Linked DNA regions of Homo sapiens. The protein of the gene in region 3 purifies or fractionates together with the protein of the main gene of each other region. This does not show direct contact. Each region holds a gene or a part of one and is shown on either strand. Other genes may lie near its edges. The genes, in order: SDHA, ANXA5, SUCLG2 and ZNF146.

Region 1 (7,026 bases), on a different chromosome or scaffold from region 3:
TTATCACTTTGCAAAACAAATAAAGGGGACACGTTGGGAACAGGCCCCCCAATGTGGCCATAAACTGTCCCCAAAACTGGCCATAAACAAAATCTCTGCAGCACTCTGACATGCTCTTGATGGCCATGATGCCCACGCTGGAAGGTTGTCGGTTTACTGGAATGAGGGCAAGGGACACCTGGCCCACCCAGGGTGGAAAACCGTTTAAGGCATTCTTAAACCACAAACAATAGCATGAGCGATCTGTGCCTTAAGGACATTTTCCTGCTGCAGATAACTAGCCAGAGCCCATCCTTTTGTTTCCCGTAAGGAATACTTTTAGTAAATCTTATCACTGGCTTGCTGTCAATAAATATGTGGGTAAATCTCTGTTCAAGGCTCTCAGCTCTGAAGGCTGTAAGACCCCTGATTTCCCACTTCACATGCTGTATTTCTGTGTGTGTGTCTTTAATTCCTCCAGCACCGCTGGGTTAGGGTCTCCACAACCGAGCTGGTCTCAGCAGTAAATATTGAAAAGGAATAGATACAATTGTCATTATTTACAGATAGAATTTCCAAACAATTCCCAGGGAATAAACTGAAAAACTAACAGAAACAAAACAAGAATGTAGTAAGGTGTCTGGATAAGAGATTTGTATCTAAAAATCAGTAGCTTTACAATGTGCCAGCAGTAGTCTGCTCAGACATCAGTAAATATCTCATTCACATTTCAAAAAAAATTGAAAATGCCCTGAAATAATGTAACCAGAAATACGAAAAAAAGGATATGAAAACATGTGGCTGCTAATGGACATGAAAGAATGTAATACTAGATTCTGAGATGCAATGTTTTTCATTTGTTCTTCCTGAAAAACCATTAGGTTGATGTGCATTACAGTGTTACGATTATGTATGAGTCTAAGGAAAATCAGATGAAATGTCCAAATTAAACCATGAAGGTGCATTGGTAGAGGAAGAGAAAATTAGGGTCAGTGGAGCAAAGCACAGTTAGAGGGAGAAGCAAGGAGGAGGAGGGATCACTGAGGTGGTGCCTGTCCCACAGGAAGCAAAAGCTGACGCCTAGTTCCCAGCATACCTACAGTAAACTTCAGGTCCACTGCATAGCACGTCTCTCATCACAGTAAAACTATGAAGGAACTCAGTGTACAAGGAGCTTCTACAAGATAGGCAGAAGACAGTAGCCAGATGGGCCAAGGGCCCCAGCCACCCACGCCCCTCCCTCTCCTTGAAGACGTGCAGCTCCAACACCACCATCACCAGGGCTCTGCTCAGCTCCTCCTAGTGTGTATCACCACAGGGCTGCTGGCTTGTGTCACGTTCACCACCAGACCCCGCGTCAGGAGTCCCGCCAGGGGTGTGGAGAGGCAGCGCTGCCTGGTTGGCCGTGGAGCTGTATGGAACATGGTGCCTCACAGGCAGTCTGCTTGGAGTCCTGGACCCTGGCTGTATCCTGCTGGAAAGGATGTGTGTGGGTCTAAGATGTGTATGTAATAGAAACATTTATTTATTCAGAAGCTTTAGTCAAAACTTCATTTTTAAGTTTGGAGTAATAAACTCATAGTCTGAATTTCCTAATTTTTCTGTTTAATTTATGTAACTTTTAAGTGAAATGCAAAACAACAGGTCTAAAAGTTAAGCAGTTCTTGGTATGGCTGCTTCTATGGATTAAAAGTTTACAAATAATATTTTGTGCCACAGTCAATGCAAAATCATGCTGCCGTGTTCCGTGTGGGAAGCGTGTTGCAAGAAGGTTGTGGGAAAATCAGCAAGCTCTATGGAGACCTAAAGCACCTGAAGACGTTCGACCGGGGTGAGCAGACAGTGGGCTCTGTGCACACTGTTGGGCCCTTCCTTCTGCAGGGTGGGCTGGTGTCTGTCCCGTCAGTGCTGACTTAGTTCCGTGCTTGCTGTCTGGATGGGTCCTGGCCCACAGCTATAAAGCCACAACCAGTGACTCCATGGACTAGCAGGCCCAGGCTGACAGCTCGGAGGGCCCATGTGACTGGGTCCCGCCTGCCCCTGATGGAACTTTTTGTGTCCCCAGGAATGGTCTGGAACACGGACCTGGTGGAGACCCTGGAGCTGCAGAACCTGATGCTGTGTGCGCTGCAGACCATCTACGGAGCAGAGGCACGGAAGGAGTCACGGGGCGCGCATGCCAGGGAAGACTACAAGGTGGGCCTTCTCACCACGCCCACCTGCACCTGCCTTTTCCTGCCACCTGGTGGGACTCAGCCCCACCCCTGCATTTTCTCTGCATTTTCTTTCGTTGCCCCAAAAGTAAATCCAAAAAATGCCTTTTTCCCCCCTGGTAACTTTGATCCCTGGGTTCTCGCCATCTTCTGGATCACTGTGACCTTTTCCTTGCTTTGGGTCGGCATCCACTGATGCCAGCAGTGGCATCTCCAAGCCAATGTGCTTTGCTGTTAGAAGGCCAAGGTTAGAAGTGCAGCTAGAGTGGCAAGACCAGGAAATAAATGCCAGTTTATTAAATAACGAGTAAGCCATCATTTCAAGCCTGCCCTGTGGAGGAAATGCCAGTTTATTAAATAACGAGTAAGCCACCGTTTCAAACCTGCCCTGTGGAGGAAATGCCAGTTTATTAAATAACGAGTAAGCCACCGTTTCAAACCTGCCCTGTGGAGGAAATGCCAGTTTATTAAATAACGAGTAAGCCACCGTTTCAAGCCTGCCCTGTGGAGGAAATGCCAGTTTATTAAATAACGAGTAAGCCACCGTTTCAGACCTGCCCTGTGGTGGAAATGCCAGTTTATTAAATAACGAGTAAGCCACTGTTTCAAACCTGCCCTGTGGAGGAAATGCCAGTTTATTAACGAGTAAGTCACTGTTTCAAACCTGTCCTGTGGAGGAAATGCCAGTTTATTAACGAATAAGCCACCGTTTCAAACCTGCCCTGTGAAGGAAATGCCAGTTTATTAAATAAGGAGTAAGCCACCGTTTCAAGCCTGCCCTGTGGAGGAAATGCCCGTTTATTAAATAACGAGTAAGCCACCGTTTCAAGCCTGCCCTGTGGAGGAAATGCCCGTTTATTAAATAAGGAGTAAGCCACCATTTCAAGCCTGCCCTGTGGAGGAAATGCCAGTTTATTAAATAACGAGTAAGCCACCGTTTCAAGCCTGCCCTGTGGAGGAAATGCCAGTTTATTAAATAACGAGTAAGCCACCATTTCAAACCTGCCCTGTGGAGGAAATGCCAGTTTATTAACGAGTAAGTCACCGTTTCAAACCTGCCCTGTGGAGGAAATGCCAGTTTAGTAACGAGTAAGTCACCGTTTTAAGCCTGTCCTGTGGAGGAAATGCCAGTTTATTAACGAGTAAGCCACCGTTTCAAACCTGCCCTGTGGAGGAAGTGCCAGTTTATTAAATAATGAGTAAGTCACCGTTTCAAGCCTGCCCTGTGGAGGAAATGCCAGTTTATTAAATAACGAGTAAGTCACCGTTTCATACCTGCCCTGTGGAGGAAATGCCAGTTTATTAACGAGTAAGCCACCGTTTCAGACCTGCCCTGTGGAGGAAAATGCCAGTTTATTAACAAGTAAGTCACTGTTTCAGACCTGCCCTGTGGATGAAATGCCAGTTTATTAATGAGTAAGTCACCATTTCAGACCTGCGCTGTGGAGGAAATGCCAGTTTATTAAATAAGGAGTAAGCCACCATTTCAGACCTGTCCTGTGGTTTGGAAAAGGTATTATAGAGCCTGCCCTGTGGTCACTTGTTCTTCAGATGAACTGATTTTTGTGCAGAGCGCACGTGTTGGATTCTGCCTGGTAAGAGTTTTTCCCATATGATAGCAAAAAACGACGGAAAGGGAAGCTTGGGATGCAAATGCAAGTTCAGGATAAACCACATCAGCAAAAGGACAAAGGCTCCACAAGGCAGGCGCACAGGCTGGTTCAGGACCGTGTGTAGGCGGCTGGTGGCAGCCTTTCCAGTCAGCTGAACATGGTGAATGGGAAAATCATTTTTATTCACCATGAAATTTTACTGATTTACCCTCCACTAGAATATGCTGATGGCTGTGATCACTGCTCAGAACTTGCTCTTGTCTCCTTGTATGTATTAAGAGTTTCCTGCAAAGTATATGAATCCGTGTTTGCCAGAATACAGAATAATAGTAAATTTATTATTTTTATTTTTATTTTTTTGAGAAGGAATCTCACTGTCCCCCAGGCTGGAGTGCAGTGGCGTGATCTCAGCTCACTGCAACCTCTGCCTCCCGGGTTCAAGTGATTCTCCTGCCTCAGCCTCCCAAGCAGCTGGGATTACAGACACACTGCCACCATGCCTAATTTTGTATTTTCAGTAGAGATGGGGTTTCACCATATTGGCCGGGCTGGTCTCGAACTCCTGACCTCAAGTGAACCACCCACCTCGGCCTCCCAAAGTGCTAGGGTTACAGGCATGAGCCACTGTGCCTGGCCAGTGCATAAATTTAGTTGGTCACAGTCAGTTTTAATTAGAATAGAAGCCAGGTGCAGTGCCTCACACCTGTAATCCCAGCATTTGGGAGGCTGAGGCAGGCCAATGACTTGAGCCCCAGAGTTGTAGACCAGCCTGGGCAACATGGCGAAACGTGTCTCTACAAAAACATAAAAAATGAGCCAGGTGTGGTGGTAGCACAGGAGGCTGAGGCAGGAGGATTGATTGAGCCTGGGAAGTCAAGGCTCCGGCAAGCTGTGATCACACCACTGCACTCCAGCCCAGGTGACATAGCCAGACCCTGTCTCAAAAAAAAAATTTTTTTTTAATAAAAACAGGCTGAAAGAAAAGATTGAGGTAGTCTCCCAGCACATGGAGCAAAAAGACAAAGTATTTGATAAACTCTTAGGTACATAAAGGATGCTTAAGGGAACATGCGGACATGGATTACTGTGGACTCACTGCTGGCTGCACACCCCCTGGCCAGCCATGCGGCCTCCGTGGGTTCTGAACATGTTGATGGTGCCAACCTCCTGGGCTGAAGTGGAAATGGAATGAGTTCTAGGGCATCTGTCTCTTAGATCATGTTAATGTCTGCTGTGTTTTTTCTGTATTGCTCTGTTAGAGTAATAAGAAACGTGATGGTGTTTCTGGCCTCAGGTGCGGATTGATGAGTACGATTACTCCAAGCCCATCCAGGGGCAACAGAAGAAGCCCTTTGAGGAGCACTGGAGGAAGCACACCCTGTCCTATGTGGACGTTGGCACTGGGAAGGTCAGTGTGGAGCTCGTTCTCACCACAGCCCAGCACCCACACGGCCCCGCCCAGGCCTGCGGGCTGGCCTTGCTGATGGTGAACGGGGAAGAGCAGGCCAGATTTAAATCAACTCCCGACAGATTCGAGGCACCGCTGAAAAAGGCACTCCGACAGCAGTCGGGCTTCGGGCTGGAAACAGAATCCAGTTCCTGCAGGTGGTTCAGAGGAGCCTTAAGGAAGGGTTGCTCCGTGGTGTGCGCCAGATGGACGTCACTGGGCAGGAGCAAGTGTCCAAGGCCTGGTGGTAGGGGAGGAGATGATGATTGTGGACCTAGCGAGAAAGCATCTGTGGGGTGGGGACACACAGCCATTACCAGAAACCAGTCCCACGTTAAGGGAGCCCAGAAGAGACACCTCCCCTCTCCTCCCACGGGCTGGGCCAACTGGAAGCGTCTGCAGGGGAGCTGAGGGGATGTGGTGCAGCCTTTAGCATCCCCTGGGCACTGAGCAAGCAGAGAAGGGCAGAAATGGAGGTGGGGTTGGGGTGAGCAGTGTCCTGGGAACAGCCAGCCGAGGGTGTGGTAGGGGGTCGCAGCCTTTTTCCACACACGGTGAGCAGCGTCCTGGGAACAGCCAGCCGAGGGTGTGGTAGGGGGGTCGCAGCCTTGTTCCACACAAGCACAGTTCACCTGTGTGGCATTTCCGCTGGGCATTAAGATTCAGAAATAATGAAGATAGAAAGCTTTTACCCTTAAACTTTTCATAGCTTGTAAGAGTCGTATAATCACTTAGCTGTGTCTGTGGAAGTTACCTTTGGACTCTCACTATCATCTAGTGTGTCTGTGATTCAGGCAGTAGGTCATTTTCAGGACTTCTCATGAAGGCCATTTCTTGATAGTGTATAGAAATCACACTTCACTCGCTTAGCACAAGTCTATTTTTAATGTTTCCGGGTTCGGGTTTTTTGGTTTTTTTTTGTTTTTCTGAGATAGAGTCTCATCTCTGTTGCCCAGGCTGATATGTGTTGGCTTGATCTCGTCTCACTGCAGCCTCAACCTCCCCCAGGCTCAGGTGATCCTCCCACCTCAGCTTCCTGGGCACATGGCACCATGCCTGGCTAATTTTTATATGTTTTGTAGAGATGGGGTTTCTCCACGTTGCCCAGGCTAGTCTTGAACTCCTGCGCTCAAGTGATCCACCTGTCTTGGCCTCCCAACAGGCATGAACCAACACCCCCAGCCAGTTTTAGTGATTTTTCAAGAAATACATACTCATTTTAGAAAGTACAAAGAGATTGAAATAAGAGCTCACTAACCAGAGACGACCCATTATGGTTTAAATTTCTTTGTATATGTGCCTACCTTTTCCTGTGTGTGCATATTTAATACACAGCTTGAGTATTCCTTCTCTGAAATCCTTGGGACCAGAAGCGTTGTGGATTTCAGGCTTGTTCAGACTTTGGAATATTTGCATTATACTTACTGTCTGAGCATCCCTAATCGGAAGATCTGACTCCATAGCACATTTCTTTTGAATGTCATGCTGGTGCTCAGAAAGTTTCAGATTTTAGAGAATTTCAGATTTTTGGATTAGGGATGTTCAACCTATATAAATATTTACTTTGAAGTAGAAAAACTGGAAGTAGATGGTTTAAACATAAAGTGTCTTGGTATAGACAAGGGTTCTCCCACTTTACATGATGGGAGCATTTTTGTAAAGCACTGAGAATCTTAAAGTTCACATGCCATAAATCTACTTTTATAGTTAAAATTTTTCAAAAGGAACACAAGAGATGGCTTTTTGTACATTTTTGTGCTTAACTTACCACTGA
Region 2 (7,026 bases), on a different chromosome or scaffold from region 3:
GCAGGATGAATAAGTTCTGGGGATCTCATGAACAGCGTGGTGACTATAGTGAAAGTATAACTATTATATGCTTGAAATTTGTGAATACAGTATATTTTAAATGTCCTCACCACACACAAAAATATAGACTATATGAAGTGATGGATATGCTGATTAACTTGATTGTGGTAATCATTTCACAACGTACACATATATGAAAACATCATGGTGTATACCTTAAATATATACAATTTTTATTTGTCCATCATAACTCAATAAAGCTGGGAAAAAAAGACTAGGTGCATTTTGAGTAGGTAGAAAAGATATTTTTGGGTGAGGTACTGCCTGTCTTTAATGGCATGGAGACTGGACTGTGGAGAGTGTATTGAGGGACGGAGAGGGCCTGGCTGCTGTGGAGGATGTGTGCATGTCCATTGTGGGAGGTAAATGGAACAAGCGAGGTTAGGCTCAGATATAGATGGTTTTGCATGACTGGATTAGGAATTTGGACTTAATTCACAGGCACTGTAAATTCCTGAATGAGCAGTGGAGTGCTGAAGGAACAATTGAGGGAGGAAGGAGATTTGAATTGAGAGGCTAATTGGATAGTTATGTGTGTGGGAGGTAAGCTAGGTATTTAGGAATTGTGGCCCAACCTAGGTGAGTGAGAGGTGTGAGGAGGATAAATCAGGGACAGGAGAAACGTGATAGGATTTAATGGTTAATATTTACAGGTGTTGGTGTAGAAGAAAGAATTAAAGATTCCTACAAGGTTTTGTATTTGGGTAACTTGTTGAAATAAACATGTAACTCTTCTGGGCCTTTTAAAATAGAAGTTTCAGGCTTTTAAAGTTCGTTTGCTTTTGCATAATAATTAAATATTTAAATACCTTAGAGTAAGGCCTCCTTTCCTTTAATAGCATCTGTTTGAGAGTAGTGAGAAAGACTTGTAGACTCTTGTAGATCCCAGTTCTCCCCTTTTATATGGGCTTACATTGAGCAGCTGGAAATAGAGGTGGGAGGGGGGCCTACTTTAAAATATCATTGCTGTCTCTCAAGAGTTAACTTTATTTCTGCAGAGGAAAAATACCTTATTAGGAGTGATGGCCATGCCCAAAGAAATAAATCTCAGAATATTAGAGATAGAAGACATTTGGAAGCTAACCATATAAAAGATTTGAAAGAAAGCAAAACAGAGTTTAAGCTTATGATTGATTGTGTTTTGGAGACTTTCCAGTACCATCATGTATCTATAGATTAATGACTACATTGGTCGAGAGAATTTCTAAATGGCTGAGTCTTGATTTAAGTTTGAATTGAGTGCCTTTGGGAGACTTTAATTCATTTTTGTCCAACCACTCACTGAAAGCATTTGCTTAGAGCATTCAGAGATGGAATAGAGGGAATTTATGTTAACCAAATATAATTATTTCTTCTTTTACATCGCTTTCATTTGATTAATGGGGCAAGATTACTTTTCTAGTTGAAAGAAGATGTAAATAAGTATGAAATTATTTTGTTGCAGAATATGGCTCAAGCCTGGAAGATGACGTGGTGGGGGACACTTCAGGGTACTACCAGCGGATGTTGGTGGTTCTCCTTCAGGTATTGCGTGGAGATTAATTACAGTTTGATTAAAAAGCCTGAAGTTGGACTGGGCTGAATCTAGTTAAGTAAGGTCACTTAAAATTCTTTTAATAATTTGTGGTACTTGCTGATTCTTACTGCGATGATTCTGACTGTATGTTGCCTGTGCTTGTTTGTGTTTCAGAATATCTGGTCTAAATTCTTAACAGCTAACTCATACATGTTTTAGATAGTAGTATCTTGTTCCTTTCATAGAATGATAGCGGTATCTTGTTCTTTCATAGAATTTAAAATCAGTAGGGTCATTATTGGTTTTGGACAGTGCTGGGTGATGATAACGTGAAATAGTGCAGGATTGATCTTAATAAAAGCATATTATTCCTAGAGAAAGAGTGTTATTGAATAACCATCAGGTGGAACCATTTTTCCTTTTGAATGAGAATGCTCTATAGTTCAGTAATGTGACATATTACCTCTCATAGGCTAACAGAGACCCTGATGCTGGAATTGATGAAGCTCAAGTTGAACAAGATGCTCAGGTGAGTGACACCAGGATATGATGACTTTATTATGCTGTAGAAATGAAGAAATAATTCATGGTAATGAAAAATCACAATGTATGTTGTAATAGCTTCTAGTGATAATCTTGTTAATGGGTTATTTACATAGCATAAGACCTACATAAGTAGCTTTTTCTTATTCTGACCTGGTCAGCAAAATATTTTACCTTAAAGCTGAAACGAAATAAAATAAATTATATAGTGAGTTCCAACTAGACATGTTTTTTTTTGTGATTATTGAACATTCACAAAATAGAGAATTTTACCAAAAAACAGTGTTATTACTTCCACTGCCAATTATGCAGTGGGTCTCTTAGCAGGAGAAGATAAAGAAGAAAGAATAAAGTATTTAACAGTAAGTGGTGTTTAATTACATAAGAGATGACAAGTTATTTTGGTATTAGGAAATTTCTCTGCATTTCCTTCGACAGAATTTTAAGTAGGATTGGTCTTCTGTCAGCAGCTTTTTAGTGACTCCAAATGAAAATTTCCTCTTAAGTGACTTATAAACCCCTATAAAGTCTCAGTCTGGTTAATAAAACAGTTATTAAAATATAGGAAAGGAAATTTGAAACATGAGAGCTGAAAACTGGAAATTGGTAATAAAGGAATTACTTGGGTTCCTAGAACCACCAATCATAGACCTCTTTCTGGTCACATGTTTCAATTAAGAGAATATACAATTCTTGGTTGTTTGTCATGTATCATTGAAAAAGGAAGAGCCATATTCATTCCTCCAGTGGAACAACCCATGGATATGCGATCTCACTTTGCTAACAGGAAAGAGGAGAGCGGTTATTCTTTTGGGTAGGTTGATTTTATAATGGTTTCAGAATGCTGTCATCTCTGTCTAGCTGGAGAGAAAAAAAGAACTGAATGTTTACCGAGGGCTCTCTGTGCAGTATTTGACTCTTGCTTCACTCTGTCTTAGAAAATGCAAGCCAATTGTGTCCAGCCCCTTCAGACTCTGGTGGTTCCATTGCCCTCAGGATAAAGTCCGGGTTCCTGAATGGGTTACAAGCCCCTTTGTTATCTGTGTGTTGTTTACTTATGCCTCCAGCCTCTCTCACATGCTCTCTCTGCCCTCTTGCCCCTCCCACCCCGCTTCACCTGAGTCCTCTTCAAGAGTCAGTCTTCAGCTTAGATACTTTAGAGTTAGGTGCCCCTCACAGGGAAAACCATACCCCCCCCCGCCCCCAGGCTTCCTGTCACAGTTCTTGCCACGTTCTCTGGAAGCCATCTATTTACTTCACTGCCTTCCTGGGCCCCCTGAGCTGTCAGTTCAATTGTATCCTCAGCTTCTGGCATAGAGTAGGTGCTCAGTAAATAACTGATGAATGAATGAGCACATAACTCTACCAGAAAGGGGCAATTTCCCTTTTATGGATAAAGAAACAAACCCATGGCTTCCACTGAATAGCAGTGGAGTTGGAATTCCTAACGAGGCCTGTCTGACTCCAAAGCTCTTTCTCTTTCACTAGAAGATAGTCAGTGTTATTGAATATTAATATTTCACTATAAGAATATTTCACTGTAAGATATTCAGTGTTCTTGAGTATTAGTGCCTTCCCTGATTTTCTCTATCATTAAAGGGCTTATTAAATATCAACTCAAGCATAGATCTAGCTTAATTCCACCTTCTTTCGGGAAGAGGGCTAGAGCAACCCTACAGAGTTGTACTCCTGTTAGGGGCTTTGTTCAGTACTGAGGTGATCTTACTGCTTTCCAAGCATTGGTTGTGGCTTTGCTAGGAGATAGTGCTGATTCTCTCATTCCTACTGTCAAGAGTAGGATAGGAGTTCTGGGAGCTTTTCAGGGTCACAGTGTAAGAAACCAACTCTAGTCCTCTCAGATGTCTGCAGTGAGGCCTGCATTCACAGGCAGAGGGCAGATTTCCCAGCATAGTTGGTGATGTAATGAGAGCATTGCTGCAGCACGAGGCTCCTGAGGGGAAAACAGTACATTTTAACCTTGTTTTCATTGATTTCTGTCCTTGGAGCACTTACTGGATAGCACTGCTGCTCAAACTTTCATGGGCATGTGGCGCACCTGGGACCTTTAATTGCAGATTCTGATTCTATGGGTCTGGGCAGGGGCTGGGAGTCTGGATTTTGAACATGCTCTCAGGTAATGCCTGCATTCTTGGTCCTTTGATTACTGAGGCTGTATAGGTGACACTTACGTGTCATGCAGTGGATATAACCATTCAGAACCCTGAGAGTACATGTGAGACTGTACATGTGAAAACTGCTTTATGGAGTTACTTTAAAGTATCCCTTGAATGGAATCCAAGCTTTTCTTAGCCTTCCAGTGACTAGGAGCAATACAGAACATGTTACACTGGCTATTATTTTTGATTCTTTCAAATGTATTATTATTAATTAATAAACCTGTTGAAAACAAATAATCTTTTGGCATTATAAAAAGGAACACACCAACTTGTACCTCGTAGCAAGGGCAGCTGGACTGTTATCACTAGTGAGAATTTGAGATTTCTTAATTGAGAGTAAGCTGAGACAGCTAAAGGGCTCTTTTATAAGCTTTTGCATTTTTGTCTCTACTGATACCTGGCACTAAGAAGATTTCTATTATTTGAGAGGTTTGATAAGCCATAGTGAGTCATTCACTTGGGAACTGAACGTTTTGTAGATAATCCACTTTTTAACATTTTTAATGTGTTAAATTGATTTAATACTTTTAATGCATTAAAACAGATTTACCTTCTTCCCCAGTAAATCCTTGTTTTATTCTTTCTCTGGAGGGAGAGTTGAACTCTTAGAGGAAAGAGGGAGAAGGAGAAGTAATCAGGCACTTTTTACTTTTACTGGGCATTTGCTACTGATTACCTGACACTGTTCAGTGCATTATCTTAGTTATATAATCTCCGTTAATGACTATATACACTGAGGCTGAAGAGGAGATTAAGTAGTTCATCTGAGATCTTGCAGATAGACCACATCTGTTTTGACTCCAAAGACTCATCCTTTGCACTGAACCAGGGCTTATGAAACTGTACTCAGGCTGAACCGTAAAGCTTAGGGAAGGGGTGTAAGGGTCCCTCATCCAGATGGATCCATGAATATTGGGCATCCTCATTTAGGAGAAAGGATACTTAGATTAAAACAAAACTGTTAAATATCATTGTTTTACATGAAGAAGCCATCATTATTATTGCATATGATTACTTAATAATAGTTTTACAGTAGATATTGATCCCAAACATAATTCTCCCAAGAAAATTAAAACATTGTGGTAAAAATAACTGACATCTCACCAATTATTCCCATATAACAGGCTTAACTCCTGTACCTACTAGAGAACATTTCTAGACATTTAAAACAGTTGATAAGAAGTGTGTGCATCAATGTCTGTGATATTGTACAAGATGAGTCCTTTACCCATTTAGGTGTTAATGTATTTGTATATTTTATCTACATGTAGAAACATACCAGAAGTAGTAACTAGCACCCTCAGGAAATTGATATTAAATAGCAACTTTTCTTTTCTTTCCTTTCTCTTTCCCCTTTCTCCTTTTTCCTTTTCTTTCCTTCACCTTTCCTTCCCCTCCCATTTCCTTACCCTCCCCTTTCCTTCCCCTCCCTTCTCCTTCCTATCCCCTCTCCCTCCCCTCCCCTCTCCCTCCCCTCCCTTCTCCTTTCCGCCCCTCTCCCTCCCCTCCCCTCCCCTCCCTCTTCCCCTTTCCTTTCCTTCGTGCCCAGGCTGGAGTGCAGTGCCATGATCTAGGCTCACTGCAACCTCTGCCTCCTGGGTTCAAACAATTCTCTTGCCACAGCCTCCCGGGTAGCTGGGATTACAGGCATCTGCCACCGTGCCTGGATAAGTTTTGTATTTTTAGTAGAGACAGGTTTTGACAGGTTGCCCAGGCTGGTCTTGAACTCCTGGGCTCAAGCGATCCACCTGCCTCAGCGTCCCAAAATGCTGGGATTACAGGCATGAGCCACTATGCCTAGCCTGCAACTTCTATTTTCTTATTTTTGTTCTTTCTTAGTTTTATAAAATTTCTCAATGAACTTGCGTTGTTTTTGTAATTAAATTTTAAAAGTTATTTTAAGAAAGGTCTGTGTCATCATGATATAGTTCTAAAGTTTAGATGCATGCATGACTTTCAGAGTTACTGTCTTTTCAGGTTTTAAGAGCATGTTCACATGGCCAGAATTGATATTATTCATTTTTATCTTTAAAATAATTAATTTTAAAATTGAGCATAAAGATACATGAGTCTCATTTTTTTCTTATTCTCCAGAAATATAATAAAAAATAGATCTTTACCACCATAATCTACATTTTTAAATATACTGTGATCAAAACTTCTATATTCAAGCCTGTTATTATCACTTCCTGTCTTTATTTGGATTGCTGCTTGTGGGTATAAGGCCAACTGCAAGTAGCAGCCTCAGCAAATTGCATTCATCTTGCTTTAATATGTAGACTTAGTTTGAAATGAATAAAAGGATAGTACAGTCATTGTAAAGGTTGATTCTTTGGGTTTTAATAAATTATTCTCACGTCAATAAGTGGATTCAGAGTTAACGTTGATGTTTGTATATAAGCTTATTTTTTTAGGCAGCTATACGTGCACAAGAAAGCATATTTTTTCCCCATGTCAAAAAGGAAGTATGGGCACTCAAACTATTCAACCACTACTTATTGAGTGCTTCTATATGCCAGGCACTGTGCTATACCCACAATCTTTTAAAAATTTATTGTGATCTTTGGAAATATGAAAACATTTTATAGCTAGCCTTGGTTAAATCTCAGTTGTAAAGAGAAAATATGAAGTGTACTTTTACTCATGTGCTATTGAACAGCTATAGAACAAGCAAAACAGAAAAGGCAGACAACTTAGCTTCCAGTTAAATCCTTTCCCAGTCTATACATG
Region 3 (7,589 bases):
ACCCTTTGTAGGGTGGAGGTAGTGACAGGCAGGAGCACCAGGGGGCCTCTGGGTTGTTGTTAAATGATCGTTTTCTTCATCTGTACCTAGTTAGCTGGGTTTGCATTCAGTTTATGAAAATTCATCAAGTTGTTCATTTGTAATTGTTCATTTTTCAGTATGTCTTATATTTCAGTTTAAAAAATTATGCCAATCAAAAACACACCATATCAAATAGGTCTCCTCTGATCATCCAGTCTAAACTACCCTGCTGTGAAGCAATCCATTCTCCATCCCATGACCCTGACTGATTTTCTTCACAGAATCTGTCATTGGCTGAAATCATTTTCATTATTGGTTATATGTGTACTGGCTCACTCTCTCCCACCTCCATTAAAATAAAGTATCACGTGGCCAAAGACTCTGCCTGCCTCATTCACCATCCCCAAACCCCAGGGCCTACAACAGTCCTGCCAAATGGTATGGGCTGAATAAAAACTATATGAAAAATAAGAAATGACTAAAGTGGACCCTTTAAGGACGTACTATCAATCAAAAGTCAAAACAGTAAAGCTAACAGCAAAGGTGAAAAAAAAAAAAAAACTTCAATGACACTAAGCATCAGGAATATGTGTCAAATGTTAAATTTAACCATAGGGAGGAGGTAGACAAAATGTCATTCTATGGGTATCTTTGAGAGACCAGTTAAAGTTATTTCTCTAAGCAGAAACTGGGTCTTTTATTTCTGTACAGACAACAGTTTTTCACAAGGCCTGGTGGTATAAAATAGGTCTGGGCCAAGAGTGGCAACAGATTTCTGAGACACTTGGTGAGGATTCTTAAGTATGATGAGAGAAGTGGGCCATGTTTAACTGCAATGTCTGCCACGGGCAAGGGACTATGGAAACGTAATATCAAATCAGTGTACATGAAACAGATCATAGGAAGCACCCAAGAATTTGAAAATAGCAATACTCACCATTTTTATGGACAATTCTAAGATGGTCATAAAGAAAAAAATAAAAATGTGTCAGTGGTGCTAATGACTTGGATGTTATATAGTTACTACTGGCATGCAGATTAATTTGCATGTTGATATAATATATTTTCATGAGGAAGTATATACTCACCAGGAAACAGCATGGTGTAACGGAAACGTAAAGGTAAGCCTTTACTCTGGAATGCCACAAACTCTCACTGTATCGTTGAATATGTCATTGAACTTCTTTAGGCCTCAATTTCTCTACCCATGAAATGAGCTGGCTGGACTAAATGATTGCTAATGTCCATTTCCAGTTCTTGGACACTGTGTACCTTTCTATCTTTAAAAAAACCTACTTTTACCTTCTAAGAATTTACAGAAAAACACATCATCCACAAATATGTAAATCACAGTAACCAGATGGGGCGTGCTAACAGATCTTTTTACCCAGTTTTCTTGACAAACCAAGAGTATCTCTCCCCAACCAGATTTTCTCCTGTGTTGCGTTCAGCCTCTTATTTCTTGGTTAGGGAAGTAGGCTTCACATATTTCAGCTAAACACTCTGCATTTTCAGTTTCTCTGTACAATTCATGAGTTTTCACTGCCCTGGGCCCCATGTTTCTCATCAATTCAAGTCTACACTCATGGTAAGCACCCTAGTTCTTGTTTTTTCTAACACTTAAATAATGAATAGGACTTCATCTCCTAGAGCTATTCTCCTTACTCTATTACAACAGTTATTAGTGAGTTTTAATTAGACAAAACTGCCATTCCTTTTGCTACCTCACTATACTGTCAAGCACCTATTAAGAATATTACAGTAGTAAGTATTAGCACCTTTTAAATTTACATTAACAATAACAGAGAAATGGGGAGGCAGGAAATGAAAGGAGAGGGGTAAAAATAGCTCACAGATGTCATAACCAAAGTTTAGAGGAACTCAAAAAATCATTAATCACTATTTTTTAAATTTTCTAAAAAACTATACTATGCACATCCTGGTTAAAATTGTATGAGTGATAATTTGCCTCTCATCAATTAAAAATGGGGAAATAGGCAAGGTCATTAACTCTGCTGTGGCTGAATCCCAGACTGTGCTTTCTTTAAAAGGGAAGAGAGATAGTCTACGGAGACTAACCAGTTCAGTGGTTGAGTGATTTCTACAAGAGTCATCACCAACTCAAAACTTTCCTGAAGTCCTTCTGACTATTTTAACGCTTGCCATCTGCAGAAGGTAAAAATCTGCTAGAGGCCAAGTTCCAATCGCTATCCAGCCCACCACTGACCCTCTTTGATTTCATTCTCCATCAACAAGGAGGACATGGACAGGGTCAATGGTCTAATGCGTTTTAGTGACAGCCCTGATTTTTCATTGGAAAGAGGAGAAAGATCGTTTCCCATTTTTCTCCTTGACCCACGGATTTGACCAACTCAGGCACATTAAAAGTCTGCAAAAGCAGGTAGCCTGCAGGAAGTTCACCCTAGGGGGTGAGTTCCTAGTTGGGCTGAAACGGGTTTCCAGGCATGTTTATCACGTGGTCTAAACGTGCTCAGGGTTAGTGCCAGAAGTTTGAAAAGCAGAATTAGTAGAGCTGACAATAAAACCTCAGGGCTCCAAAACCCGGTCCAAGAAACTTTTCTTAAACTTGCGTCCAGCGCCTGCTTCAGCGCCTTCGCCATGAGTCTGCGCGGGCAGACAGCGGAGACTCTAGTGCGTTGGGTCGCTCATACCCCGAGGCACCCGGGGCTGCCGCCGCGCCGCCCCTGCCCCACACTGGAGCGGGGTTCCCTGCTGCGCCTGGACCCGGCGCCGCGTCACCTCCCGAAGTGGGGCGCCCGAGGGGCCGCGCAGGGGGTCAGGCGGAGACCAAGAGTAGCAGGGGGCGAGGGAAGCCCGGGCAGGCCGGCGCCGCTGCTGGCGCCCGCAGCTCCTGCCCCCACGCTCACCTGGGACCCGGCCGCCAGGAAGCGGGGCCGCAGCGCTAGGGCTCGCAGAAGCTTCCCGGCCTGCGCTGCTACGGGGGACGCCATCTTAAACAGGAAACTCGGCACGGGGCAGTAGGGCGGGCGCGGGCAGGGGAAGGAGGCGGAGGAGGAGCAGCGGGAGGAGGGGTCAGAGGAGAAGCGGGCGCGGGGAGGAAAAGGAGGAGGAGGCAGAGGCGGTCTGGGCCGGGCCGGGCCTGACCCCTGCGTCCCGGGGGCACAGGCGTTCTTAAGGCTGCAGAGCCCTGGGTCCCCCACCCGGCCCCGGTTCACTTTGAGCGGTCCCAAGGCCTGAGGGCCTACTGTCCAGTCCCCAGGTTATCGTCCTGAGCAAAGACAGACCCCGAGCCCTGCGGTCTTGGGGCTCAAACAGTCCCTGGATGGCCAAACAAGCAAATATTCGCCATGGCAGTGGGTGCTGGAAGGGTGGCTCACGGAGCTGACGCCCTCCGCAGAGAACCGTGGTCTAGTCCTGCGGTCACGAGGCCTATCTGGGACAGTGGTGTTTGAGCTGAGACTTTAACGAATAGAGACAGGTGAGGTTCCTGCAGCCCAGGGCTTCAGGTGAGTCAAGGAGAGGCCATTGGAGGCTCTCCATCCCTTAAGGAGTTGTGGGTGTTTTGTTTTGTTCTATCCTTAACCTAAAATCAATGTAAAGCTGAGAGATGAAGCCGGGTGGGTCGGTTGGGGACTTGGAGAACTTCTCTGTCTAGCTAAATGATTGTAAATGCACCAATCAGCGCTCTGTGTCTAGCTAAAGGTTTGTAAATACACCAGCCAGCCCTCTGTGTCTAGCTAATCAGGTGGGGACTTGGAGAACTTTTCTGTTAGCTAAAGGATTGTAAATGCACCAATCAGTGCTCTGTGTCTGGCTAAAGGTTTGTAAACACACCAATCGGCACTCTGTAAAAACGCACCAATCAGCGCTCTGTGTCTAGCTAAACGTTTGTAAATGCACCAATCAGCACTCTTTAAAAAGGGACCAATCAGCACTCTGTAAAATGGACCAATTGGCACTCTGTAAAATGGACCAATCAGCAGGATGAGGGTGGGGCCAAATAAGGGAATAAAAGCTGGACACCGGCGCCAGTAGTGGCCCCTAGTTGGGGTCTCCTTCCAGGTTGTGGTTGCTTTGTGCTTTTGCTTTTTGCAGTAGCTCTTGCTGCTGTTCACTGTTTGGGTCCGCACTATCCTTATGAGCTATAACACTCACCACAAAGGTTTGCAGTTTCACTCCTGAGGTCAGGGAGACTGCGAACCCACTGGGAGGAATGAACAACTCCGTATGCCCCACCTTCGAGGGCTGTAACACTCACTGCAAAGGTCTGCAGCTTCATTCGTGAAGTCAGCGAGACCACGAACCCACAGGCAGGAACAAACAACTCCGGACGGGCCACCTTTAAGAGCTGTAACACTCACTGTGAAGTCTGCGGCTTCACTCCTGAAGTCAGCGAGACCACGAACCCACCGGAAGGAAGAAACCCCAGATACATTTGAACATCTGCAGGAACAAATTCTGGTCACGCCATCTTTACCGCGAGGGTCTGCAGTTTCATTCTGGAAGTCAGCGAGACGATTAAGAACCCACGGGAAGGAACCAATTCCGGACACAAAGCTATTGGAGGATTTTAAGCCCAGTAATCAGAGTGATAAAAGCAACATTCATTTGGAGCTGTGAACCCCAAATACCTGACACAGGTCTCAATCAATTTAAGAAGTTTATTTGGCCACAGTTAAGGACACGTGCCTGTGACACAGCCTCAGGAGGTCCTGACATGTGCCCAAGGTGTGGTGGAGGACACAGCTTGGTTTTATACATTTTAGGGAGATATGAGACATCAATATATGTAAAATGTACATTGGTTTGGTCCAGAAAAGCGAGACAACTGGAAGCAAGGAGGGGCTTCTAGGTTATGGGTAGATAAGACACAAAGGGTTGCATTCTTTTGGGTTTCTGATTGGCCTTTCCAAAGGAAGCAATCAGCTGTGCGTCTATCTCTGTGAGCAGAGGGATGACTTTGAATAGAATGGGAGGCAGGTTTGCCCTAAGCAGTTCCCACCTTAACTTTTCCCTTTACCTTAGTGATTTGGGAGTCCCAAGATTATTTCCCTTTCACAGAGTTTACGCGAGTCTAAGCAATGTGCATATAATAAAAACAACAGCAAAGTTACTGAATGTGTGCCAAGCATTAGACAAATATAAACTTGTTTAGTCTTCATAGCAAAGTTTTAAATGAGTAGAAGTGTACAATCCCCATTTTGCAGAAGAGAAAACTGAGGTGCACAGAGGTTAAGTAACTTGCCAGAGGTGGCAGGTCTGATAAGAGATGAGATTCACATCCCTTCCACCCACCCCCAAATTAAGCACTATTTTAGATTTTTTTTTTTAACCTTACTCATTCTTGAGCATATGATCATGAAAAAAGGTACAATGTGACATAAGTAGACAGCTGTTGCTACTAGCTTCTTTCCTAATCTCTCTCTTTGGAAAGTGGGGGAGCTGAGGATTTTTATTTTAATATAATTTCTAGCCCATTTCGAGACATAGTTTTACCCACTAGATGTAGCATCTTTTGATGATAAGGATGATGATGATTGTTTAAATCAATTATTGTCACGATGGTGGCAAAGTGGCAAGGTCTAACTCCATCCTACATTTATTAGTCTGTATTCTACTCAGAAAAACTGCACTCTTTCCATCATCTCCATTGATGAAAGAAAAACTTCAGCTAAATTAAATGTAAAGGAGTTTAATTGAGCAATGAACGGTTCGCCAATCGGGCAGCTCCCAGAATCACAGTGGATTCACAGAGACTCCAGCGCAGCCACGTGGTGGAAGAAGATTTATAGAGGAAAAAAGGGAAATGACTTACAGAAATCAGAAGTGAGGTACAGAACAGCTGGATTGGTTACAGCTTGGCATTTGCCTTACACAGTTTGAACACTCAGCAATGTATAAATGGTTAAAATATGGCCACTGGGATTGCCAAGACTTAGCTGTTGTTTTAGGTCCATACTTCTAAGTTAGGTTTTCAATCTTGTCTACCTATTAAGCTAGGTTGCAGTTCGTCCACAAGGACTCAAATATAGAAGTACCGAGTCCTCCTTAGGCCATATTTAGTTCACTGTAACACTATTCGTCGGTGAATTGTTTTATTCACTTGTATCACTGTGGACTCATGGATTCTTTTTTATTAAATGGCAAACCGATGCTCTTTCCTGATACATACACTCTGCTGCCTCTGTTTTCAGTCATTTAATCTTCACAGGAGCCCTGCAAATGGGGTCCTACTATTATTCCCATTTTGCCAGAGAGAAACTTGGCCACAGAGTTCCACATGACATTTACATGACTCTAAGGTCAAGTAACTTGCCAAGGGTGACACAGCTTGGGATCAAATTTCCCAAAGCTGGACTCCAATCACTCTTAGCACCCTCCTCTTGACAAAACTGGATTTGAGTTTCCATATTGTTCATCATTACCCCTACTGGGTCCGCCGGGATAGAGCAAAGACTTGCTAATGTTTGAGAGTGAACGTTTAAACTTGGTGAGAGCTTGTGAACATTTTGCCAAAAGGAGGAAGACCACCTATAGAATTAATCAAAGGCTGTTTATTCAGACGTTACTATGCTAAGGGAGTTGGCTACTATCACTTTCCTTCCAAATGAGACTAGAAGTCGTTTGAAAGAAGTGTTAGTTTTATAGAGATAAAGGAGAGACTCTTAAGACTGTCTTTGATTGATGAGTGTTCTTTTAAGATGCGATTATTCTATTATGGGGGGATTTTTGAAAGTGGAGTCGGGAGAGGCTTTCTGATTGTCATCCAAGTACATTTGGTATTCTTTGATTTGTTTACTATCTACTGGTGCGTAACTTGGGGTCTTTCCAGGGTTAGCAGCCTCCTAAGAGTTTTCCTGTCTGAATTGGAAGACTGTCTCATCCTTGGTTCTGGGGTCCAAATCTTTCATCAGCAATTCCTCAGTGTCTTTACTCGTATTATCTCATTCTGCCTTCTCTGCAGGAAGGTGGTAGGGGAGAAGGGACAGAAGGAAGAAAGAGAACCATTTATGTAGCACCTCCAGTGTCTAGCACTGGACTTTGATTAGAAAAAGTAATCAATAAACATATGTGGAATGAATTGCATTATAGAGTTCCTCGTAAGATTTCTCCCTATTTCATACTCCCCGCTTCCACCCTCCAACCTCCCCCAAATAGGAATCTCTTTGAGAACAGGGAATCTAGATTCTACCAGAGTTCTGCACTGTGCTTTCCTGGAACAAGCATTAAGTTTTCAGCCAAACTGGATTGGATTCAAATCTGACCTCCACCCCCTTGAACACCTGTGACTAGGAAAATACCTGGTTCATAGGGTAGTAGTAAGTAGTCAATGATCAGATGTTGCATGTAAAGACCTTGCACATAGTAAAGACTTCATAGATGTTCTTTTTCTTCCTCTAGTGGGTCCATAACAAATATTTGCTTGATATCAAATGTGAAACACTAGGGCCAATCTGAGATGTAGGTTAGGAGACCCCTGACACTTTGTAATTTATCTTGATAGCACTGGAGAATTACAGAGATGTACAAATGCCAGACAAAAGTATTAAGAGTCTAAAGTGGTTGCCTCCAAGAAGAGGATAGAG
Region 4 (6,952 bases), on a different chromosome or scaffold from region 3:
TCACGCCTATAATCCCAGCATTTTGGGAGGCCAAGGTGGGCAGATCACCTGAGATCAGGAGTTCGAGACCAGCCTGTCCAACATGGTGAAATCCCATCTCTACTAAAAATACAATTATTAGCCGGGCGTGGTGGTGTGTGCCTGTAATCCCAGAAACTTGGGAGGCTGAGGCAGGAGAATCGCTTGAATCCAGGAGGCAGAGGCTGCAGTGAGCTGAGATCATGTCACTGCATTCCCAGCCTGGGCAACAAGAGCCAAACTCCAACTCTCTCTCACACACACACACACACACACACACACACACACACACAATTCTAATTAATAAACATAGAAGTGGCCGGGCGCGGTGGCTCACGCCTGTAATCCCAGTACTTTGGGAGGCCAAGGTGGGTGGATCACGAGGTTAGGAGATCGAGACCATCCTGGCTAACACGGTGAAACCCCATCTCTACTAAAAATACAAAAAATTAGCCAGGCGCGGTGGCAGGCACCTGTAGTCCCAACTACTCGGGAGGCTGAGGCAGGAGAATCGCATGAACCAGGGAGGCGGAGCTTGCAGTGAGCCGAGCTCGCGCCACTGCACTCCAGCCTGGGTGACAGAGCAAGACTCTGTCTCAAAAAAAACAAAAAAAAAAAGAAGAAAAAATAAACATAGAAGTGATGATGGAAACAAACCCCAAAACCCCACCATTTGACAAATAGCTGGTAACAACTTTTTCAGGCAAGCGTCATCAACGGATAAGACTAATAGATGAAAGGAGGATAAGAAACGGGATATTCACATAGGCTTAAAGTATTTCTTCACAAGACATGTATCAATTATAATGGGAAAAACAGTGACTTTGCAGCAGAGAAATCTGGCAATCACCGTCTTAACCAAGCGGTTAAAATTAATACCACTCATAGTGTAACGAATTGACCTCGTGGGTCCCTGGCATGATGCGCCGAGAAGGGTACATCGCTTTCGGAGTATTCTTGCCCCAAAGGCAGAATCTGAATTTAATCAACAGGAAATATCAGACAATTCCAAAGAGAGGAACATTCTACACTGCAGACTCTACAAAACAAATGGCCAACATGGTGAAACCCTGTCTCTACTAAAAATACAAAAAATTGGCTAGGCGTGTCAAAGGAGTTACAAAAAGGAAAATGGAGACCAGACATGGTGGTTCACATCTCTAACCCAGCACTTTGGGATGCTGAGGGAGGAGGATCACTTGAGGCCAGGAGTTCGAGACCAGTCTGGCCAACATGGTGAAACCCCCCTCCCCCCGTCTCTACTAAAATTACAAAAAATCAGCTGGGCACGATGGCATTTGTCTGTAATCTCAGCTTCTCAGGAGGCTGACGCAGGAGAATCGCTTGAGCCTGCGAGGTGGAGGTTGCAGTGAGCTGAGATCACAGCACTGCACTCCAGCATGGGTGACAGAGCAGGACTCCGTCTCAAAAAAAAAAAAAGAGCAAATGGGAATTCTATTGTTGCTACATTTTAAAGTCTTAAATTCAAAATGAAAAGTAAAGAAAAAAATTTAAAAGAACATTAGGTATGCAGGGAGCAGGGAGGATATAGGCCTTTCAGTCCATCTCCAAGGCACGCAGTAAATTACTCCTATGGCAAATACTGGAGACCAGGTTACTTTGGTAGGGGTGAGGGTGGTGGTGGGGTGGTTCTGAAGTTTCAGAAGAAGGAAAGAAAAGCATGTCCTGAAAAACAAGAAGGATTTCAGAGAAATAAGAATAAAACCTGATGTACTTGAACTTGGCACCTTTCTTGGAGAAGGGTTAAGAGCAAGGAATCATGAACAACCAGGTCATTTTTGAACCACCATCCTCCTTACCTACCATATAGGGAAGTGTGGTCACAGAACACCAGGCATCTGCCTAAATCCAGTGTCACTCAGAAGGCTGAGGTCACTCCTGTCCAGGGCCAGAATCTGTCCTAACTTCAAAGGTTCTGCATGGGTCAAGCACTAGAGTCACTGGCACACTTGGTGCTGCACATACAGTCAGTGTCACACAAACATAACCACACATCCACTCTTTTATTTTTTTGAGACAGGGTCTCGCTCTGTCACCTAGACTGGAATGCAGTGGTTCAAACACGGCTCACTGCAGCCTTGACCTCTCAAGCTCGAGATCCTCCCACCTCAGCTTCCCGGGTAGCTGGGACCACAGGTGTGGGCCACCACACTCAGATAATTTTTAATTTTTTGTTTGTTTGTTTTTGAGACGAAGTCTCGCTCTTGTCCCCCAGGCTGGAGTGCGATGGCGCGATCTCGGCTCACTGCAACCTCTGCCTCCTGGGTTCAAGCGATTCTCCTGCCTCAGCCCCCTGAGCAGCTGGGATTACAGGCACCTGCCACCACGCCCAGCTAATTTTTGTATTTTTAGTAGAGACAGGGTTTTATCGTGTTGGCCAGGCTGGTCTAGAACTCCTGACCTCAGGTGATCCACCCGCCTCGGCCTCCCAAAGTGCTGGGATTACAGGTGTGAGCCACCGTGCCAGCCATTAATTTTTTTTTTTTTTTTTTGTACAGGCCAGGCTGGTCTCGAACTCCTGGGCTCAAGTGATCCTCCCACCTCGGCCTCCCAAAGGGCTGATGTGAGCCACCACACCCGGCCCTACATCCACTCCTGAGACACAGGACACAATCACAGACACCTCTATACCTTTCCAGTCACAATATCTTTCCAGTCACAATCACACACCCGCTAAGACACACCCAGTCACACAATCTACTCTCCACTGTGATACAGTTACTCCCGTATAGTCACAAGCCCCACACACCAACACCCACAAATGCCTCATATAGTCACAGTCACACACCCACTCAGGGGACACACGCCATCACTGGTACTTTACGGCACCCAGTCACAACTGAACTTTCACTGTGGACATACACACAGTCACACTCACACAAGCAACCCACACAAGCAGTGGCACCCCACTCCCGCATACACAGCACCACACACATACACACAAACACACACACCAAGGGATACAGGAATACACAAGCGGCGTCACCACACAGTCACAGGCACAGGCAATTGCACACGGCCACAGTGTCACACAACCAAAACCACGCACACACCTTGGAGACATGAATCACAACCGCACACCCGCAGTGGTCACACAGTCACAACTGTACTCACACCCCAGGAACAGGGCGAACAGGCCACATATACAACGGGGACACACGCAGTATCACCCCCGGTCACAAGGACCCTGCACCCCGATACTCTCTATCACACATGGTTACACAAAAACCACCAGACACCCTGGAGACAGGCGGTTACACGTGCACAGTTGCAGACACCCACACCCAGCCACACAGCCACAAAGACACATTCAGAACGGCGCATCCGCAGCCAGCTCCCGCCTGCGCGCACAGATTCGAGGCTCCGGACACGCCCCGGCCCCGCCCAGGACTCCCAGACCCCTCACCTTCTGCCTCCCCTGGTCGCGTCCGGGTCCTTGCGGAGCTAACTAGCTCGCCACGACGTCAAGAACGACGTAACGTCAGGCCGCTGTGGGCTCTGGGAATTGTAGTCCAGAGCTAGATCGGCCACGGACAGAATGGCGTTCTCTTATCTCTGAGTCGGGGCCTGGCTCGTTTTGACATTTTTGCGCCCACGAGTCTTCGGAGAGGGCGTCGCCACTCCAGACCTTCCAGCAAGCTTGAAGTCATCTGACGCTAAAGGACTACTTACCTCAAGAGCTCCATCGTCACAGAAGGAGGCGGCCAAGTTCGCGGGGGGAGGGGAGGAGACAGAGAGTCGACCAGTAAAGCCTCAAGGGAAATGTAGTCCAAGGCCTGAGAAGCGACGTTGCTGGTAATAGAAGGTAATTCAGTACCAGCCTGGGCCTGGCCGCGGTGACCGAGGCGGGCCGCGTCGCGGAGACTTCTGGGAGTGCTTCCTCGCTCTCCGAGTGCGCAAGCGCAGCGCACCGAGTGGACATTTTGGTCTTTGTCCGCGGGTCAGTACGGCCCCTGGGTCCACGTGGCGCGAAAGTAGGAGGTGGGATCTGGGCGTCTCGGGTCGGTCGGACCGGGGAGGTTAAAGGGGAGGATTCCTGATCTTTAGGGGCGCGGCGCGAGGGCAGGGAGTGGGTGTAAGAGCTTCTGGCCTACGTGCGGGGCGGAGATGGGGGCCTCTGAGGCGGGTTTGAGCGAGTGTGACCGAGTTTGTCCTCAAAGTTTGACCTGATGTTTGGGATTGTTGAGTGAATGTGAAACTGGGTGCGGGATTGTGTGTGATTGTGCCTAAGAGGGAGATGTAGGAGACCAGCATTGAGGTATAACGTTTGAGCTGCACTTCCCTTGTCGAAAGTGCTGATAATTATAACGGTGCCATCTTCCTGGAGCGTCTTTTTTACTTGAAAATTGAAGGGGTGGAAAAGCTAAGTGGTGAATAATTTTAAAACGAGTTTTTATATAAAAGCATTTCTTTTTAATTGGAGTGGCATGCAAATCACCGTGACTTTTTTTTTTAATTAAACGAGAGTGTTTCGAAGGAACTTTAGTTTCGGGGTGCCTACTTCAGACTATTCAAATCCCCATCTTTGGGGTACTTAAATAGGGCTGTTAAGCAAAGCCCTAGACTAAACAGCATTGTACGCTTTGAGAAGCAATCCCATATAACGGCGCCCAGGATGAGGGAGTCAACGGTTTTAGGTTAGGCACAGTTATCCTCATTTTTTGAAGAAAGCTTAATTGTTGCAGTGTTTATCTATGAGTCTGGACTAAATCCTAGGTGTCTTAATTCCTTAATGAGTCGAGGCGTTCTCAGGTTGTATGGATTTTGTGAAGTAATGGAGAATGCTACTGACGTCTCCAAAGATGCGTTTTCTAAGGAAATCACCCCGCCCCCGCTGTCGTCATTGACATAGTTTTAAATTACAAAAAGTTAAATAAAGTAATTGGGTACCAAGTTAATATCTATAAATAAATAGCCTTCTAATTTACAAATATCAGTTAGAATACATAGTTGAAGAAAACTAATATTTACAATAGCAGTAAAAAGATAAAGTATTGTGGAAGAAACTTAAAGGTTCAGAACTATTAGGAAAGAACTTTAAAATACTACTAAGGGGCATAACAAATGTGAACAAATAAATATACCATGTGACATTAAGAAGTGTGCGCAAACTTAAGTGAATGTATTAATTTACTGTGATCTTGGTCGGGTGCGGTGGCTCATGCCTGTAATCCTAGCACTTTGGGAGGCCGAGATGGGTGGATTACCTGAGATCAGGAGTTCGAGAGGAGCCTGGCCAACATGGTGAAACCCTGTCTCTACTAAAAAAAAATAAAATAAAAAAATACAAAAATTAGCCGGGCGTGGTGGCGGGCGCCTGTAATCTGAGCTACCGCGGAGGCTGAGGCAGGAAAATCGCTTGAACCTGGGAGGCGGAGGTTGCAGTGAGCCCAGATCTCGCCACTGCACTCCAGCCTGGACAAGAGCGAGATTCCGTCTCAATAATAGTAATAATGTGATCCTAATAAAAGTATGGACAGGCTTTTCTCTTTTGGAACTAGGGGAACTGATCCTAGACTTACTATGGAAAGAGACAAGCTGCAAGAGCCAGTACAGACTGAGAAAGAAAAGGCGTTGAGGTGTGGGGAGATGGGGACCCAACACATTTTAAATATAAAGCCTCAGGCCGGGCTTGGTGGCTCACACCTGTGAGCCAAGGCAGGAGGATGGCTAGAGTCCAGGAGTTAGAGACCAGCTTGGGCGACATAGTGAGATCTCCCGTAGTCCTAGCTGCTTGGGAGGCTGAGGTGGGAGGATCACTTGAGCCTAGGAGGTCAAGGCTGCAGTGAGCAGAGATCCTGGCGACAGCATTCCAGCTTGGTGGACAGCCAGTCCCTGTCTTTTTTTTTTTTTTTTTTTTTTTTTGAGATGGAGTCTCTCTCTCTTGCCCAGTCTAGAGTGCAGTGGCCCAATCTCTGCTCCCTGCAACCTCTGCCCCCCAGGTTCAAGCGATTCTCTTGGCTCAGCCTCCCGAGTAGCTGGGATTAGTTGCCTGCCACCACACCCGGCTACTTTTTTTGTATTTTTAGTAGAGACAGGGTTTTACCATGTTGGCCAGGCTGGTCTTGAACTCTTGACCTCAAGTGATCGGCCCGCCTCGGCTTCCCAAAGTGCTAGGATTACAGGCATGAACCACGGTGCCTGGCCGACCCTGTCTTAAGAAAGAAAGAAAGGAGAGAGAGAGAAGAAAGAAAAGAAAAACAGTTCATGCCCATCAGTGGGAGATTGGTGTACATCGATACAACAAAATAATACATAGCTGTACAAAAGAATGAGGAGGAAGCTCTTTATATACTGAGACAGAAATAACTTCAAAATGTATTGTTAACTGAGAGAAAGCAAGGTGCAGAATGTAGAGTATGATACACGATGCATTTGGAATAAGAAAAGGGGTAATAAGAATATGTATTTATAATCCCAGCACTTTGGGAGGCCAACGCAGGCGGATCACCTGAGGTCAGGAGTTTGAGACCAGCGTGACCAACATGGAGAAACCCCGTCTCTACTAAAAATACAAAATTAGCCAGGCGTGGCGGCACATGCCTGTTAATCCCAGCTACTTGGGAGGCTGAGGCAAGATAATTGCTTGAACCCGGGAGGCGGAGGTTGCAGTGAACAGAGATTGCGCCATTGCACTCCAACCTGGGCAACGAGAGTGAAACTCCATCTCAAAAAAAAAAAAAAAAATTCAAAAGATACATACGAAATAATAAAACTGGCTGTTGGGGTGGGGGTACTGGAATAGACAGGGCAAAGGCTTTGTATTTTTAGTAGAGACGGGGTTTCACCATGGTGACCAGGCTGGTCTCGAACTCCTGACCTCATGTGATCTGCCTGCCTCAGCCTCCCAAAGTACTGGGATTACAGGCATGAGCTAATTTTTTTTTTTTTTTTTTTAAATTAAAGGAAGACA

The links.
Region 1: the proteins of SUCLG2 (region 3) and SDHA fractionate together in Homo sapiens (co-fractionation; 3 studies listed by BioGRID, with this or other methods). This does not show direct contact.
Region 2: the proteins of SUCLG2 (region 3) and ANXA5 purify together in Homo sapiens (affinity purification with mass spectrometry; 2 studies listed by BioGRID, with this or other methods). This does not show direct contact.
Region 4: the proteins of SUCLG2 (region 3) and ZNF146 purify together in Homo sapiens (affinity purification with mass spectrometry; 3 studies listed by BioGRID and IntAct, with this or other methods). This does not show direct contact.

The regions. Positions count from the first base shown.
Region 1 is NC_000005.10:249,294-256,319, forward strand, and holds part of SDHA (succinate dehydrogenase [ubiquinone] flavoprotein subunit, mitochondrial), read left to right. Parts: intron 1-1,698; coding exon 1,699-1,810; intron 1,811-2,044; coding exon 2,045-2,175; intron 2,176-5,099; coding exon 5,100-5,213; intron 5,214-7,026. UniProt on the Homo sapiens protein: Flavoprotein (FP) subunit of succinate dehydrogenase (SDH) that is involved in complex II of the mitochondrial electron transport chain and is responsible for transferring electrons from succinate to ubiquinone (coenzyme Q).
Region 2 is NC_000004.12:121,672,973-121,679,998, reverse strand, and holds part of ANXA5 (annexin A5), read left to right. Parts: exon of another isoform or gene 1-1,504; coding exon 1,505-1,584; intron 1,585-2,048; coding exon 2,049-2,105; intron 2,106-7,026. UniProt on the Homo sapiens protein: This protein is an anticoagulant protein that acts as an indirect inhibitor of the thromboplastin-specific complex, which is involved in the blood coagulation cascade.
Region 3 is NC_000003.12:67,651,594-67,659,182, forward strand, and holds the start of SUCLG2 (succinate--CoA ligase [GDP-forming] subunit beta, mitochondrial isoform 2 precursor), read right to left. Parts: upstream 3,020-7,589; 5' UTR 2,994-3,019; coding exon 2,910-2,993; intron 1-2,909. UniProt on the Homo sapiens protein: GTP-specific succinyl-CoA synthetase functions in the citric acid cycle (TCA), coupling the hydrolysis of succinyl-CoA to the synthesis of GTP and thus represents the only step of substrate-level phosphorylation in the TCA.
Region 4 is NC_000019.10:36,211,177-36,218,128, forward strand, and holds the start of ZNF146 (zinc finger protein OZF), read left to right. Parts: upstream 1-3,929; 5' UTR 3,930-4,020; intron 4,021-6,945; 5' UTR 6,946-6,952.